Regions from separate parts of the Homo sapiens genome. Here region 1 is linked to region 2. A link means that fine-mapping ties the variant in region 2 to the expression of a gene that starts in the linked region. Tissue or cell type: whole blood. Region 2 holds a variant in brackets; the other region holds the start of a gene. All regions are shown on one strand. Distances are between the middles of the regions.

What was found. PIP is the estimated chance that this variant, and not a neighbour inherited with it, causes the effect.
Region 1: GSPT1 starts here. The variant in region 2 is fine-mapped to the expression of GSPT1 in whole blood (TOPMed, PIP 0.91).

What each region holds. Positions count from the first base shown.
Region 1 is chr16:11,912,712-11,920,815 of GRCh38, forward strand. It overlaps GSPT1 (G1 to S phase transition 1), which reads right to left and starts at 3,245. Exons shown (of 15, transcript NM_002094.4): 1 at 2,658-3,245. The coding sequence starts at 3,009. RefSeq lists silencers at 2,375-2,424, 2,465-2,704, 2,795-2,864, 3,575-3,634 and enhancers at 2,689-3,626, 3,235-3,384, 4,685-5,185.
Region 2 is chr16:11,945,359-11,953,462 of GRCh38, forward strand. It overlaps a transcript of NPIPB2 not described here. Among named protein-coding and RNA genes, the nearest start is that of NPIPB2, 7.4 kb to the left of the region's middle. The variant G/A (reference allele first, on the strand shown) is at 3,236.

The DNA.
Region 1 (8,104 bases), 33 kb before region 2:
ATCAGATAAAATGCTTGTTCTAATATACATTAAGCCTTGTCTTCTATATTTTTATTCACTTGGGGACCTCACTTTTTAAGGAGAATCTCTTGGCCAATTTACTTGGCTCTAGAGAACTGTGCTTAAATGAATTACACTTAATTACACTTAAATGGGTTCCACTTAATTATTTCTTAAGGAACCTATATTCTTTAGTTTTCAAAGAGATCCAAGGTCAATACTGAATCCCAAGGTCTGACTCTCCAGGCTCCTTCAACAGCTTTCCCGGCATGCAGTTTAAAAACACACCCAGCACAAATTTCGGCTATGGCTTAACTAAAGAACAGAACATGCTAGCCCTATTGTCCACTTCCTCGCTATCAAAAAAACCTTGCAAACTTTTTGGTTCCCCCTTTGTAAGTTCCAATCCAGGTGTTATTTCCTATTTATCCCCCTGCTTTTTATAAGCACTGATTGTTCTCCGATGCTGGCTTTTTATGGACTTAATAGTCTGGAACATGCAATCCAACAGTCTCAATATAACCCTGGACCTCAACTTAGAAAATCAGTTCTTTTCCAAATAGACATCCTACATAGGATAATTTTTTAAAAACATGAACTGGCATTTTGGTACAAGCAATTGGTAAAGTCGGTAACACCAAAATAGTTTTTTGATTAAAAACAAGAAAGTTGACCATGCTGTACGGATTCTCTTACTGACAGCTACTTCCCTACAGGTTTTCGCATCTCCAATTTCTAGCACTGTCAAAGAGAAAAAGATTAGGTGTAACTACAAATTAGCAACTATCAGGAAGAGAGAAAGCCCGCATAAGAGGTAATACCTAGTCACCAACAGTGACCATTCTAGACCAAGGTTGGTTATCCCCGGATGACTCGCTGGACAGGCTGTAAATGGAGTCCTGAGTCTAGTCAGAGTGGTGCTGGTGGCTCCACAGAAAGGAGGAAGAGCCAAGAAAGAAAATGGCTGGATAAACGGAATCTGCAAAGTAAGGTAGGGAATGGGCACTTTTAGGAGCTGAGAAGTGAACTAGGTTAGGCAGTCAAAATGGCTTGATGTAAGTCAAGAATTACAAGCTAAGCTTCCTTATTCAAGAGGAAAACATTGTCTAGAGCCGTACCACCCTGAAAGTGCTCGATCTCCTCAAAAGAAAACATCAACCACCCACACAAATAAATGCCACTGTCAACAAAACCACCAAATCAACCGTGCTGACGTACATACGTCATCAGAGTGTTTCTCCAGACACTATCCCTTTACCACGAAAGAGCAAACGGTGACAAAAGTTTCTGTAGAAACCAAACTCCTGGAGCACTTTTATAATGTCCACTTATCTAAGAACCACCACAATACAGAACTTTAAAGAGAGAAATCAACAATATGTTCTCACTTAAAATGCGCTGGATGTCATGACCCACCCCACTAACGTCCTGGCTAAATGATGAAAGGACGTTCAGCCTTTTCCTTCCTTTTTCATTTTCTCTTTAAGGAAACACTGATAGTTCCTAAAATAAGCACCATTAGGAAGAGAATACTTAAGTTCACTCATTTGACATTCCCACAAAATCAGTACCTGAAAGCAAGCTACCTACCACAAAATAAGCACCATTATGAGAATACATAAGTTCACTCACCGGATATTCCTACAACGTCAGCACCTGCAAGCATGCTACCTACGACTTAAGCAACCCCTAAGTACGGGAAGATGTTTAAAAACCAAAGTTAACTCGAAATTTTATGGATTAGAAAATGTATGTCTACTAGCTACGGTCAGAAAGACACGTGAGAACTATTAAATTATAACAAATGCTCAAGTGTCTGAAGAAATAGACTGAACTACTGATGCACGAACACAGTGAGTTATTCCAAGCAATCTGAATAAGGTCAACGATTTTACAGCAATGAAAATTCTCTAAACGTGTCGCTGACAAAGGATAAAAGTGTAAGCTTCACTTTAAAAAGACACAAATCAATATAGTCTCCTATCACACATTAAGTGAGGAATCCTAACTTTGTGGCACTTTGTAAACTTTAGAAGCGTACACAATGCTAAGGGTAAAACAGATCTTGGTATTGATAGCCAAGTTTCTGCCCGATCACAAGGCTGCAATGCATCTTGGGATTCCTTCAGGACGGTTGGGGGCCACGGACAGTTTAAACCGTAATTACAGTTTCAATAGTAGAAAACGCAGCAGAAGACGCTCTCTCGGCTGGGCCTAAGGTGAAAGGAAAACTCGGCCATTCGTCCTCCCCAACTCCTGGGATCTCTAAACGCCCACCCAAATGACTCCTGGCTCCATCTGTCCTCATTCTGCGCCTCGTGGCAGGGATCCGCCGCGGCCCCCACTCCGTTCCATACGGTTCCCATCTCAAGTGGGTAACTGCGGACTCCAGAGCAGGGCAGGGGCGCGGAGGGGCGGCACTCGGGTCCGGGTCTTTGGGCGCGCTGCCCGCTGTCCGCTCCCCGCCCGGCCACCGCCGCGGGCCGCCCCGCGAAGGCCGGCTCCCGGGCTCGGGGCGCCCCACCCAGGCAGACGGCGCCACTGTCAGCGCCCCACGTGCCGACCGGGCCCCAGGGCCGCGCGCCCCCGGACCGCACCCCTACGCCATGTGGGCTCCGGCGCCCGGCCGGACTTCCTCCCGCGTCCCGGGCCTTTACCCGCACGGCCTCCCGCGCCGCTGCCGGCTCCGTGGTTATTGGCGGCGCCGCCAACTGGGGGTGGCGGCGCTGCCGGGCCCCGCAGGAAGGACGGCACGAACTCGGCGGCGTGGACGTTGGGCACGAAGGGCTTGGCGTTGACGTTGAGTTGCCGGCTGAAGGCCGCGCTGAGGTTCTCCCGCTGGGCCTCGGCCGCCGCCGCCAGGGAGCCGCCGCCGCCGCAAGGGCCCGGCCCGGGGGCTTCCATGTCCGCCTGGTCCCAGCAGTCAGGCGCCGAGTCGCTGCTGCTGCTGCCGCTGCTGCTCCCGCCGCCGCCGCCGCCGCCGCCGCCGCCGCCACTGCCCGGATCCATGATCGGGGGGGCCGTGTGTGTGGTGGACAGAGAGCGGGAAATGGAGGCAGGGGCGCCCGGCCGGAGAGGAGTGGGCAACGCTGACTGAGGGAAGGCGGCGGGGCAGAAGGGCCGGGAGCTAGCGACAAAGATCCCCGGCGTCGCCGCGGCAGCAGCTCCAGTCCCGACTCCACACTCGCGACGACGACAGAGGCGGCGGCGGCGGCAGCTCAACCCTCCTCCTCGTGTGTGTGAGCGGATCTCCTCCCACCCAACCACCTCCGACGGCCTCACAGCCAACCCCACCCCCGGCGCGGATTGACCCCTCGCCGCCACCCGTACCTTCGCCTCGGTAGTTCTCTGTTCTGGCCGCCCCCGTTTCCGGCTATTTAGCGCGGCGGGAGGTGGAACTACAAGTTCCGGCAGCGCCCGCGCTACCCCGCTGCGGTTTTCCCGGGGGCCGACGGGAGTCGAAGTTCAGGGACAGGGCGCAACCGGAAGCGGCTCCGGCTCCCGGCAGGCAACGCGAGGAGGCGGAGGTCTGGTGGCCGCTCGGCGGCCCCACCTGTCACCTGGTGGGGGGGCAGCGGCAGGCCCTGGTTGGTGCAGCTCTGTGCTGGGCCGAAGACCGAGAGTATTTTAGCCCATAGGAGGGGTCCACTCTGGCCTGCTGGACACAGGCTGGGGGAAAACGGACAGCATCTATAACATGGGGAAGAAAAATACACTCAGCTCCCGAAAATTCTTGTACTCTCTTTTCACCACCTTTCCTGCGTTCTCTGCCTCACAGTCTCCGTACCTTATTCTCTCTCCACCTTCTTTCTCCTCACCCCCAGCCAGATTTTGCCCTTCATTTCAAAGCCGGTGCAGATTGCAAAGCTGATTTCATTTTATGTAATCATTTCGTGGAAGAAACAATAAAACCGTGAGATATTCCGGCTTAAAACTGCAGTGTGGCTCATAAAGCGCTGGGGCCCAGGCTCTGCCCAGGCAGAAGGGATTGTTAACTGGAAAATTTCAATGACTCACCGTTTGTTTGACTAGTCATATAAAGCCTTCACCCAAATTTTTCCATCCTTTCCTCCTCCCCGCCAAAGGGTTTGCAAATTAAACAGAGGATTGCCGTATTCCATGGTGTATCCGGCTTACCTAACAGGGTTATTTTGGTGAGTCTAGCTTCCTTATGCACCATTACGTGAAGTGGTTTCCTTTTGAATGGTCTGATTTGCTCAAGAATTCCCATAGTACTTTTCATCGACTGCATCTTACACTTACAGATTAGGTAAACCTGGGAAAAGAACAAAAGCAAACGAGAAATACTTAAGAGTTCGCATTTAGGCCCTTCATGAAGTAGGAAAAAATGTTGCTCTGAGTACCTGTTAAGCTTTCCTGTAATTCACCCATGTGGAGCCCAAGACAGAGAAAAACATATTGTTAGTATTTTTCTGAAAGGAGTCTAGACAGGGTGCAACTAATCTGCCTAGAAATTACAGACTAAAGAAGCACATACATAGAATAGATGTTTCTGAACAACCTTAGGTTGTTAAAAAAAAAAAAAACCTAACAAAATCCAGATCTAGATCTGTATTTTAATTTTCTTTTTTCTTTTTTTTGAGACGGAGTCTTGCTCTGTAGCCCAGGCTGGAGTGCAGTGGCGCGATGTCGGCTCGCTGCAAGCCCGCCTCCCGGGTTCACAACATTCTCCTGCCTCAGTCTCCGGAGTAGCTGGGACTAGAGGCGCCCGCCATCACGCCCGGCTAATTTTTTTTGTATTGTTATTAGAGACGAGGTTTACACCGTGTTAGACAGGATGGTCTGGATCTCCTGACCTCGTGATCCGCTCGTCTCGGCCTCCCAAAGTGCTGGGATTACAGGCGTGAGCCACCGCGCCCGGCCGATCTGTATTTTAATTTTAAACATCTGTATTGTAAAGATAAAAGAGAACTCAGCCTAATGAGATAGGTCAAAAACGAAGCTGTCAAGTATTTTTCAAAAGAGTCCTAGGCTACAGTAATTTGAATTTAATATTAAACTACCAAGCTTTAGGGATTAAAAAAACACATACCGGCCAGGCGCAGTGGCTCACACCTGTAATCTCAGCAATTTGGGAGGCCGAGGCAGATGGATCACGTGAGGTCAGGAGTTCGAGACCAGCCTGGCCAACGTGGTGGAACCCCCGTCTCTACTAAAAATACAAGTTAGGCCGGGCGCGGTGGCTCACGCCTGTAATCCCAGCACTTTGGGAGGCCAAGGTGGGCGGATCACGAGATCAGGAGATTGAGACCATCCTGGCTAACACGGTGAAACCCTGTCTCTACTGAAAATACAAAAAATTAGCCGGGCGTGGTGTGCGGGCGTCTGTATTGCCAGCTACTCAGGAGGCTGAGGCAGGAGAATGGCGTGAAACCAGGAGGCGGAGCCTGCAGTGAGCCGAGATCGCGCCACTGCACTCCAGCTTGAGCGACAAAGCGAGACTCTGTCTCAAAAAACAAACAAAAAAAGCGATCCACCTGCCTCAGCTTCCCAAAGTGCTGGGCTTATCGGTGTGAGCCACCACACCCGGCAGAGTTTGCCTCTGCTTAATAGGAAGTTTTGGTTATAGCCTATTATTATACCTGAAGACCTCACTGAATCATACTTAACAATGTCCATTTTAAAGTTGGTATTAAGTGACTGTCAGATTTACAGAGAACTTAACAACTGTTATGAAAATTAGAACTTCATTTATGCGAGACCTGTATTGCTATTGAATAAAAGATTTTCATCTTATATTCACAAGAAAAAATACAATGTGTTCTAAATGAAATGCCTTCTCTTTCCAGATTTTCACTCCCCACCCACCCACCCCTAAGAAAATGTCAACACAATCAGCTGACTCAAATAATGAACTACACATCCTTCTCTAAGCATTTTGTCTTTGAATACTACTCTCCTCCATGTAGCACTCCTACAGCACTGAATGATCACTTTCTCATAGGTTAGTTCTTCACATCTAATTGAATTAGCAGAGTTTCCTTCTGCCTGGTACTTTTTCTAGGGACAAAGGCAGAAACTGCTCAGACTGCTGCTTAGAAAAGCAGTTGATGTCATTAATTTCCTTGTCTCTGAATAGGATAATTATGGATATTCAGGAAAAAATCCACTCCATTGGTTTTCCAAAGCTTTGACCTGCCAAACAGAGCTCCAGCGGAAAAGGGAAAAGTCTTTCTTGTTAGTTGTGCTAAGTTGTGTGTAAGTTGTGCGACTTGAGGGCAGGGTCTTACCTTAATCTTCTTTACATTTCCACTGCCTAGTGTAATGCCCGGTGTATAAAAGGTGCTTAATCAATTTAGCTGGGATGATACTGTCCTTTGATACTCATTTAAGACTGCTGACACATAGGGCTAATAATTTTATTTATTTATTTATTTTTTAAATAACTTGAGACTCTTGAGACAGAGTCTCGCTCTGTCGCCCAGGCTAGAGTGCAGTGGTATGATCTCAGCTCACTGCAACTTCCACCTCCCAGGTTCAAGCGATTCTCCCACCTCAGCCTCCTGAGTAGCTGGGATTACAGGTGTGCACCACCACGCCCAGCTAATTTTTGTATTTTTAACAGAGACGGGGTTTCACCATGTTGGCCAGGATGGTCTCAATTTCTTGACCTTGTGATCTGCCCTCCTTGGCCTCCCAAACTGTTGGGATTACAGGCGTGAGCCACCACGCCTGGCCTGTATTTTTTTTTAGTAGAGACAGGGTTTCACCTTGTTGGCCAGGCTGGTTTCAAACTCCTGATCTCAAGTGATCTGCCTGCCTTGGGCTCCTAAAGTGCTAGGATTACAGATGTGAGCCACCGCACTTAGCTATTTTAATTTAATTTAATTTTATTTTTTGAGATGGAGTCTTGCTCTGTTGCCCAGGCTGGAGTGCAGTGGAGCAATCTTCACGCACTGCAACCTCTACCTCCCAAGTTCAAGCAATTCTCCTGCCTCAGCCTCCTGAGTAGCTGGGATTATAGGTGCCCGCCACCCCCCCTCCCCAACCCCCTGGTAATTTTTCTATTTTTAGTAGAGACAGGGTTTCACCATATTGCCCAGGCTGATCTGGAACTACTGACCTCAAGTGATCCTCCTGCCTCAGCCTCCCAACGTGCTAGGATTACAGGCATGAGCCACCACACCCCACCCCAGGACTAATAATTTAGAAAACTTAGGAAAAATCAGAGTTTTTCCTACTCTCACACACAAGTCACCGCTCAACACAGAGTACAGTCCTCTCTGGGTAGAGGAAGGGGATTAGTTCCAGGAGCCCTTCAGATACAAAAATCCAACCATACTAAAATCCCACAATCTATACTGTGTGTATGAAAGGTCAGCCCTCCCTACACTTGAGTTCCTGCATCCTGAGAATCCCGTCTTTTTGATCCTCATTTGATTGAAAAAAAAAATCCATGTGTAAGTGGGACCCTCGCAGTTCAGGCTCACATTGTTTAAGGGCCAGTTGTACTCCACCAGTAAGTGAGGGAGTTTCTACCCACCACCAACCAATTCTTCAACAGACACCAACAGGATAAGCAATCATTTCACTCAATTCTGACATTAACCAGAGTTAGGACAGATCCCACAAGTTAAGGGATCAGTCCCACAAGACTGCCCCCACTTCCAATGCCAATAACAGGTTCCACATTGTGACCTGTGCTTCTGACCAACTGGCTATGAATTGGGGGTTCCCATGACCCCCTCCATGGGTTCAGGGAATTTGCCAGAGTGGCTCACAGAACTCAAGGAAACAGGGCAAACACGGTGGCTCATGCCTGTAATCCCAGCACTTTGGGAGGCCGAGGCAGGCGAATCACCTGAGGTCAGGAGTTTGAGACCAGCCTGGCCAACATGGTGAAACCCTGTCTCTACCAAAAAAATACAAAAATTAGCCGGTTGTGGTGGTGGGTGCCTGTATTCCCAGCTACTCAGGAAGCTGAAGGCAGGAGAATCGCTCGAACATGGGAGGCAGAGGTTGTAGTGAGCCAAGTGCTCCACCACACTCTAGCCTGGGCAACAGAGCAAGACTCCGTCTCAAAAAAAAGAACTCAAGGAAACACTTTACTTACAGTTACCCATAAAGGACATTACAAAGGATA
Region 2 (8,104 bases):
CAACATAGTGAGACCGTGTTTCAAAAATAAATAAGCAGGGTGCAGTAACTCACACCTGTAATCTCAGCACTTTGGGAGGCTGGGGTGGGTGGATCACTTGAGGCCAGGAATTTGAGACCAGGCTGACCACGAAGGTAAAACCCCCATCTCTACTAAAAATACAAAAAAAATTAGCCAGGTGTGGTGGTACGTCCCTGTAGTCCTAGCTACTCAGGAGGCTGAAGCAGGAGAAACGCTTGAACCCGGGAGGTGGATGCTTCACTGAGCTGAAATCGTGCCAGTGCAATCCAGCCTGGGTGACAGAGTGAGACTCTGTCTTAAAAAAAAAACAAAAACAAAAACAAAATGCTGGAGTCATGCTGAGCATAGGGAATGTGAAGGCCCTGGATTAAGACAGGCTGAGGGAAGGACAGCTGTGCCCTCTCCTCCTTCTATTCAGCCCATGGGTTCTATGTTCTTACAGAGTGGAAGGCAGAAACCCCTGCATTATTTAAAGCATTATTCTTTCTGTCTGTCTCATTTCTGTCTCTTTCTTTCTCTGTCTCTCTCACATTCAAACATGCATAGTTGGATTTACCAAGTTAAATACAGGTATATTATGACTCCAGTGTTTGTAGCTTGTCAAACCATCCCCTCATGATTTGTTTCTTCCTGTGGCTTCTACAAAAAAAAAAAAAAGAAAAGAAAAAAAGAAAGAATGAAAGAAGAAAGAAAGAAAGGAAGGAAGGAAGGAAAGAACCCAGAGAGCTGGGCATGGTGGCTTATACCTGTAATCCCAGCACTTTGGGAGGCCAGAGCGGGCAGATCGCCTGAGGTCAGGAGTTCAAGACCAGCCTGACCAACATGTAGAAACCCTGTCTCTACTAAAAATGCAAAATTAGCCAGGCATGGTGGCACATGCCTATAATCCCAGCTACTTGGGAGGCTGAGGCAGGAGAATTGCTTGAACCCGGGAGGTGGAGGTTGTGGTGAGCCGAGATCGTACCGTTGCACTCCAGCCTGGGCAATAAAAGCTAAACTCTATCTCAAAAAAAAAAAAAAAAAAAAAAAGGTAAAAAATTAGCCAGGCGCAGTGGTGTGTGCCTTTAGTCCTAGCCACTAAGGAGGCTGAGGCTGAGGTGGGGGGATAGTTTTAGCCCAGAAGTTTGAGGCTACTGTGAGCTATGATTGTGCCACTGTACTCCAGCCTGGGCAACGGAGTGAGACCATATCTTTAAGAAAAGCAATGCATAATGAGATACTACTTCATATCCACTAGGATGACTAATACTCAAAAAGAGAATAATAAGTGGTGAGGCTATGGAGAAACAGAAACTCTCCCACATTGCCGGTAGGAAAGTAAAATGGGGCCTGCCACTTTGGAAAGCAGTTGGAAAGTTTAATAAAAATGTAAAGATAAATTGATCCAGCAATCTTATTCGTAGGTATCTCTGACTGAGAGGAATGAAAGCATATGTTTACACAAAGTAACATAAACTCGCCTCCTGAGTAGCTGAGATTACAGGCGCCCGCCACCACACCCGGCTAATTTTTGTATTTTTAGTAGAGATGGGGTTTCATCATGTTGGCCAGGCTGATCTCGAACTCCTGACCTGAGGTGTGATCCACCTGCCTCAATCTCCCAAAGTGCTGGGATTACAGGTGTGACCCACCTTGACCAGCCTAAATTCAACTATTTGAATTATATATATATATATATATGGTATATATATAAACATATATATAATATATAAAATAAAATTCAATTATATATATTTTAATTAAACAATTTTTTTTGTTCTGATGGAGTCTCACTATGATGCTCAGGCAGGTCTCAAACTCCTGGGCTCAGGATATCCTCCTGCCTCAGCCTCCCAAACTGCTGGAAGGTGTGAGCCACCATGCCCAGCCAATGGTTGAATGGTGTGTGTGTGTGTGTACATAGGTACATACACATATTTTATTTATTTATTTATTTATTTATTTATATATATATATATTTATTTATTTATTATTTATTTTTGAGAGATGGAGTCTCGCTCTGTCGCCCAGGCTGGAGTGCAGTGGCGCGATCTCGGCTCACTGCAAGCTCCACCTCCCAGGTTCACGCCATTCTCCTGCCTCAGCCTCCCGAGTAGCTAGGACTACAGGCGCACGATGCCACGCCCCGCTAATTTTTTGTACTTTTAGTAGAGACGGGGTTTCACCGTATTAGCCAGGAGGGTCTCAATCTCCTGACCTCGTGATCTGCCCACCTCGGCCTCCCAAAATGCTGGGATTACAGGCGTGAGCCACCGCTCCTGGCCACATATACATATTTTAAAGAGTGATCTTCATCAGAAATTCTAGATGAAAAAAATAAAAGTAAATATAATTTTTTAAAAAAAGAATAAGGAAATGTTTTCCCAAATGCCTCTGACAAATTACCCCTTGTGATTTATTGGCCCAAGGTGTGGCATGGGGACTGGCTTGCACTGACCGGCTTCGTCCTGGGTTCTGGAAGGGAGCAGCTGGTCATGGAAGCTGGGGCTAGCATCAGTGCCCGTGAAGCATGTGGGCTGTGGGTAGGGACCATTACCTAATCAAAAAATCAGGGGATTGCAAGAAGGTGAAAGCGGATACTAGGTGGACAACTACTAAGGTGTCAATTACACCCAAGACTGGCCACTAGATACAGACCCCTCCCCCTGCATTCTCCAGCCCGTTATCCACATCCTGTCTCCTACTTCTCTGCCCACTATGGCAAAGGGAGGCAGAGTGGGGGTGGGAAGAGTCACTGCCTAAAACATGGCTTTCCTGCAGGGTGACCAGCTGTCCTGGGACTGAGTGGTTTCCTGGGCCATGGGACTGAAGGTGCCAAAACGGGGGAAGTTCCAGGTGAACTGGGAAGGGTTGGTGACCTGGTCACCTCACCAAACAGAAATAAAGAAGCACTCCTAATGAACTGTGGATCCTGTCATCAAGCACCAATGGCTGCCGATACCACAAAGAGACAATTGGTCATTGTGCGTCTGTGAGGAAAGCACGCTCAACACCATTTTTGAAATATTTTTTGGCAAAAAGACTGAACATAAATACAAACAAGTCTGTAGATCCAAGTACCAATTCATAGGAAATACAGACTGTGGAGTGTGTAAAATGGAAACTTACTGGGCGCAGTGGCTCACACCTGTAATCCCAGCACTTTGGGAGCCCGAGGCGGATGGATCACGAGGTCAGGAGATCGAGACCATCCCGGCTAAAACGGTGAAACCCC[G/A]TCTCTACTAAAAATACAAAAAAATTAGCCGGGCGTAGTGGCGGGCGCCTGTAGTCCCAGCTACTTGGGAGGCTGAGGCAGGAGAATGGCGTGAACCCGGGAGGCAGAGCTTGCAGTGAGCCGAGATCCCGCCACTGCACTCCAGCCTGGGTGACAGAGCGAGACTCCGTCTCAAAAAAAAAAAAAAAAAAAAAAAAAAAGAAAGAAAAGAAATATTAGCTACTTCAGAGGTTTGCTGTGAGCATTGAAAAAGGCAGTGATTTGTTGGGTGTGGTGGCTCATGTCGGTAATCCTAGCACTTCGGGAGGCTGAAGTGGGTGGATTGCTTGAGGCCAGGACTTGGAGACCAGCCTGGGCAACATAGCAAGACACTGTCTCTACAAAAAATTTGAAAATTAGCTGGGTGTGGTGCCTGCCGCATGCCTGTAATCCCAGCTTCTTGTAAGGGAGGCGGCTGAGATGGGAGGATTGCTTGAGCCCAGGAGGTTGAGGCTGCTGTGAGCCATGATGCTGTGATCGGGCCACTCTACTCCAGCCTGGGCAACAGAGCTAGACCCTGTCTCAAAAAAAGAAAAAGAGAGAGAAAGGCTTTGGTAAGGGCTTAGTAAATGTCAGCCACAGTAGTAATGACAGCAATACTTGCGAAGCCTTTTCTATTTTATTACTGTGCACGTCGGTGATCTCATGCAATCAACTCAGCAACCTTGCAAAATAGGTATCATCATCTCCATTTAAAAAGCAAGAAACTGAGGCTTAGCAAGGTGAAGTTGTGTGACCAGCGCTACATAGCTGGTAGGAGGCAAAGCAGATTCCCACCCAGGCTCATGTGACACCAGGGTCCTCCTGAGATGTTAGCCTCAGTGAAGTTTTTAGCCCAGATCTTCATCTCCTCTTGCCAGGATTTCTGCTATTCAAATGCAGCCACAGGAATCCGAGAAGAACCCGGATAACTAAATCAGCAGCAGCTTATTCAGGCTGAGAAAATATACAGCAGCCCTGAGAATGCAGCTTATCTTGCTTTGGGCTTACTTTTGAGTGACAGGCTCTTTTAGCCAAGCCCTGGCCAGTCTCCTCACTTGAGCCCTGGCTCACCTGAGCCAGCCTCTCAGAGCCTTATGGAGCTGGCTGGACAGCATTGGAAGTAAAGGGCAGCCTTGCTCCCTCTTCTTTAACACCGTTTAGGATTTCTGTGTAGTTACCCAGAGCGACATTGGGTGTCACCTTTGAGTCACTTGAAGCCAGTTTCCCCCAGAGGTTGATGAATGCGGCCTTTCCCCAGAGATTCTGGTTGTCTAAGATCTATCTGCTTTGGAGATACAGTATATTCATTGCCAACACTTGTGCCCCCGACTTAACAGGAATATCTGGTTCTCATTTGTCCTCAAAGAAGAGTGTTCTCTGCAACCACATAAGCCTTGAATTTGTTTTTTAATTATTATTTTTTATGTTTTATTTTTTCCGAGATGGAGTCTCGCTCTGTCACCCAGGCTGCAGTGCAGTGGCATGATCTTGGCTCATTGTAGCCACCTCCCGGGTTCAAGGGATTCTCCTGCCTCAGCCTACTGAGTAGGTGGGATTACAGACACCTGCCACCACCCCTGGCTAATTTTTATATTTTTAGTAGTAGTGATGGGGTTTCGTCCTGTTGGCTGGGCTTGTCTTGAACTCCTGACCTCAGGTGATCTGCCCACCTCAGCCTCCCAAGGTGCTGGGATTACAGGCATGAGCCACCACGCCTAGCCTAATTAATTTTTTTCTAAGAGATAGGGTCTTATTATGTTGCCCAGACTGGTCTCGAACTCATGGGCTCAAGCAATCCTCTTGCTGCAGCCCCCCAAAATGCTGAGGTTATAGGCCTGAACCACCATGCCCGCTAAGCCTTGAATTTGAAGATGGGCTTCATGCCTGATGACTTTGCAAATGACTTCTCTTCTGAGGAAAGGAGGACGCTAACATAAGGACGAGAGAGAGTTTATGCAAAGTCCCTACCAACTCAGAGCCCTTTTCTCCCAATGTTCTTTGCACTCTGCCCACACATCTGTTTCCAAGCCTGGCTGTGAATAACAGTGAACAACTTGGGGGCCAGGACTCTTTTCTACCGCTCCCTCCCTCCTCTCATCCTCCCTTCCTTCCTTCTCCCTTCCAGCCCATAAATATTTACCAAGTAGATATCATGTGTCAGACACTGGGAACATAACAGAGAACAAAACAAAAGTTCTCTTTCTTCGTGGAATTTACATTAAAACTTCTTATTTCTCTGTATGTTCTCAGCATCTAACTGAGAAGGTGCTGAGAACATACAGAGAAGTAAGACATTGGATGGCTTGGCTAACACTCTTCTTTCTAGTTTTTCCTATGCATATACTAACATATATACATGATTTTTTTGCATGTAAAATATGTTTTATTGTTCTTTAAAAGGATTCAGGGTTTAGTTTTAAATCAGGCTGCACACCTTTCAAATCAATTTGACATCTCTCTCACTATGTCAAACTGGCTTCAGTTAGCAATACCTCATTAAATCTAAAAGAAAAAAAATTCTTTTAAGAAAATTCAGTTTCGAGAAAAATTAACATTACTCGGCCGGGCGCAGTGGCTCATGCCTGTAATCCCAGCACTTTGAGAGGCCGAGGCGGGTGGATCACAAGGTCAGGAGATCGAGACCATCCTGGCTAACACGGTGAAACCCCGTCTCTACTAAAAAATATATAAAAAAAAAAATTAGCCGGGCATAGTGGCGGGCACCTGTAGTCCCAGCTACTCGGGAGGCTGAGGCAGGAGAATGGCGTGAACCTGGGAAGCGGAGCTTGCAGTGAGCCGAGATCATGCCACTGCACTCCAGCCTGGGCGACAGACAAGACTGTCTCAAAAAAAAAAAAAAAAAGAAAGAAAAGAAAAATTAACATTACTCAGAATTCAAAACAAAGTGAGGGCTAATATTTCATGGTTCTTTATACATCCTTCTCCTCAATACAGAACCAGGAATGTAGCAGGCACTGGCACTGATACAGATGGACACTGCACATACACATACACACACACACACACACACACACACACACACACACACACACCCAGCCCCCAAACAACAAAATTCAGAGTATGTCAAAGGGAAAAGGTTTTTTATGGTATTGATAGAAACCCCTGGAGTAGGCCAGGTGCGGTGGCTCACGCCTGTAATCCCAGCACTTTGGGAGGCCGAGGCGGGCGGATGATGAGGTCAGGAGATCAAGACCATCCTGGCTAACAGGTTGAAACCCCGTCTCTACTAAAAAATACAAAGAGGCTGGGCGCGGTGGCTCACGCCTGTAATCCCAGCACTTTGGGAGGCCGAGGCGGGCGGACCACAAGGTCAGGAGATCGAGACCATTCTGATTAACACGGTGAAACCCCGACTCTACTAAAAATACGAAAAATTAGCCGGGCGTAGTGGCGGGCGCCTGTAGTCCCAGCTACTTGGGAGGCTGAGGCAGGAGAATGGCGTGAACCCAGGAGGCGGCGCTTGCAGTGAGCCAAGCCATTGCACTCCAGCCTGGGCGACAGAGTGAGACTCTGCCTCAAAAAAAAAAACAAAAACAAAACAAAAAAAAAAACAAAGAAAAAAATTAGCTGGGTGTGGTGGCGGGCGTCTGTAGTCCCAGCTACTCGGGAGGCTAAGGCAGGAGAATGGTGTGAACCGGGGAGGTGGAGCTTGAAGTGAGCAGAGATCGCGCCACTGCACTCCAGCCTGGATGATAGAGCAAGACTCCGTCTCAAAAATAAAAAATAAAAATAAATAAAAAAAGAAACCCCTGGAGTCAACAGTCTATCTTAGCAGGTATGCCGTTTTGATCTTGAATCTATATGAAAGAATCTGTTGTCATGTACATGATATTTACATTTCAAATGGAAATAGGACCCACCTTAACAATATTCGATGACTAACCCCTACACCCGAAACTTAGTAGTGTACTACGGCCATCTTTCTTTCTCTTTTTTTTTTTTTTTTTGAGACAGAGTCTTGCTCTGTCACCCAGGCTGAAGTGCAGTGGCACAATCTCGGCTCACTGCAACCTCTGCCTCCAGGATTCAAGCGATTCTCCTTCCTCAGCCTCCTGAGTAGTTGGGACTACAGGCACGTGCCACCATGCCTGGCTAATTTTTGCATTTTTTAGTAGAGATAGGGTTTTGCAATGTTGGCCAGGCTGGTCTCGAATGCCTGACCTCAGGTAATCCACCCGCCTCGGCCTCCCAAAGTGCTGGGATTACAGGTGTCAGCCACCGTGCCTGGCCCTTATCGCCATCTTTCTTTGTTAGAACATAAAAATCTACTTCAATGTTTACATGTGCCCAGATGCTATTTGGGATCTCTCTGCCCCTTGGATTCTAAAAAGACTGACTTGAACCCCAAGTGTATTCCCTGTGGATTCTCAAGGTCAAGAGCACTAGAGTGCTCATGTTCTCATGGTCGCTTCTGGTCCCTGTTCAGGTCTCTGCTGAATTCATTCCATCAAATTTATTTAACCATTTGACGGACTTGGAGGACTTCAGTGCTGCATTGAAAACCCTAATTCATTCTGTATTTTTTTTCAAGGTGGAGTCTCACTTTGTTGCTCAGCCTGGAGTGCAGTGGCGCAATGTTGGCTCACTGCAACCTCCGCTTCCTGGGTTCAAGTGATTCTCCTGCCTCAGCCTCACAAGTAGCTGGGATTACAGGCACCTGCCACCACGCCCGGCTAATTTTTGGGTTTTTTGTTTGTTTGTTTTTGGTTTTGTTTTTGTTTTCTTGAGACGGAGTCTTGCTCTGTTGCTCAGGGTGGAGTGCAGTGGAGCAATCTTGGCTCACTGCAACCTCCGCCTCCCAGGTTCCCAGGTTCAAGCGATTCTCCT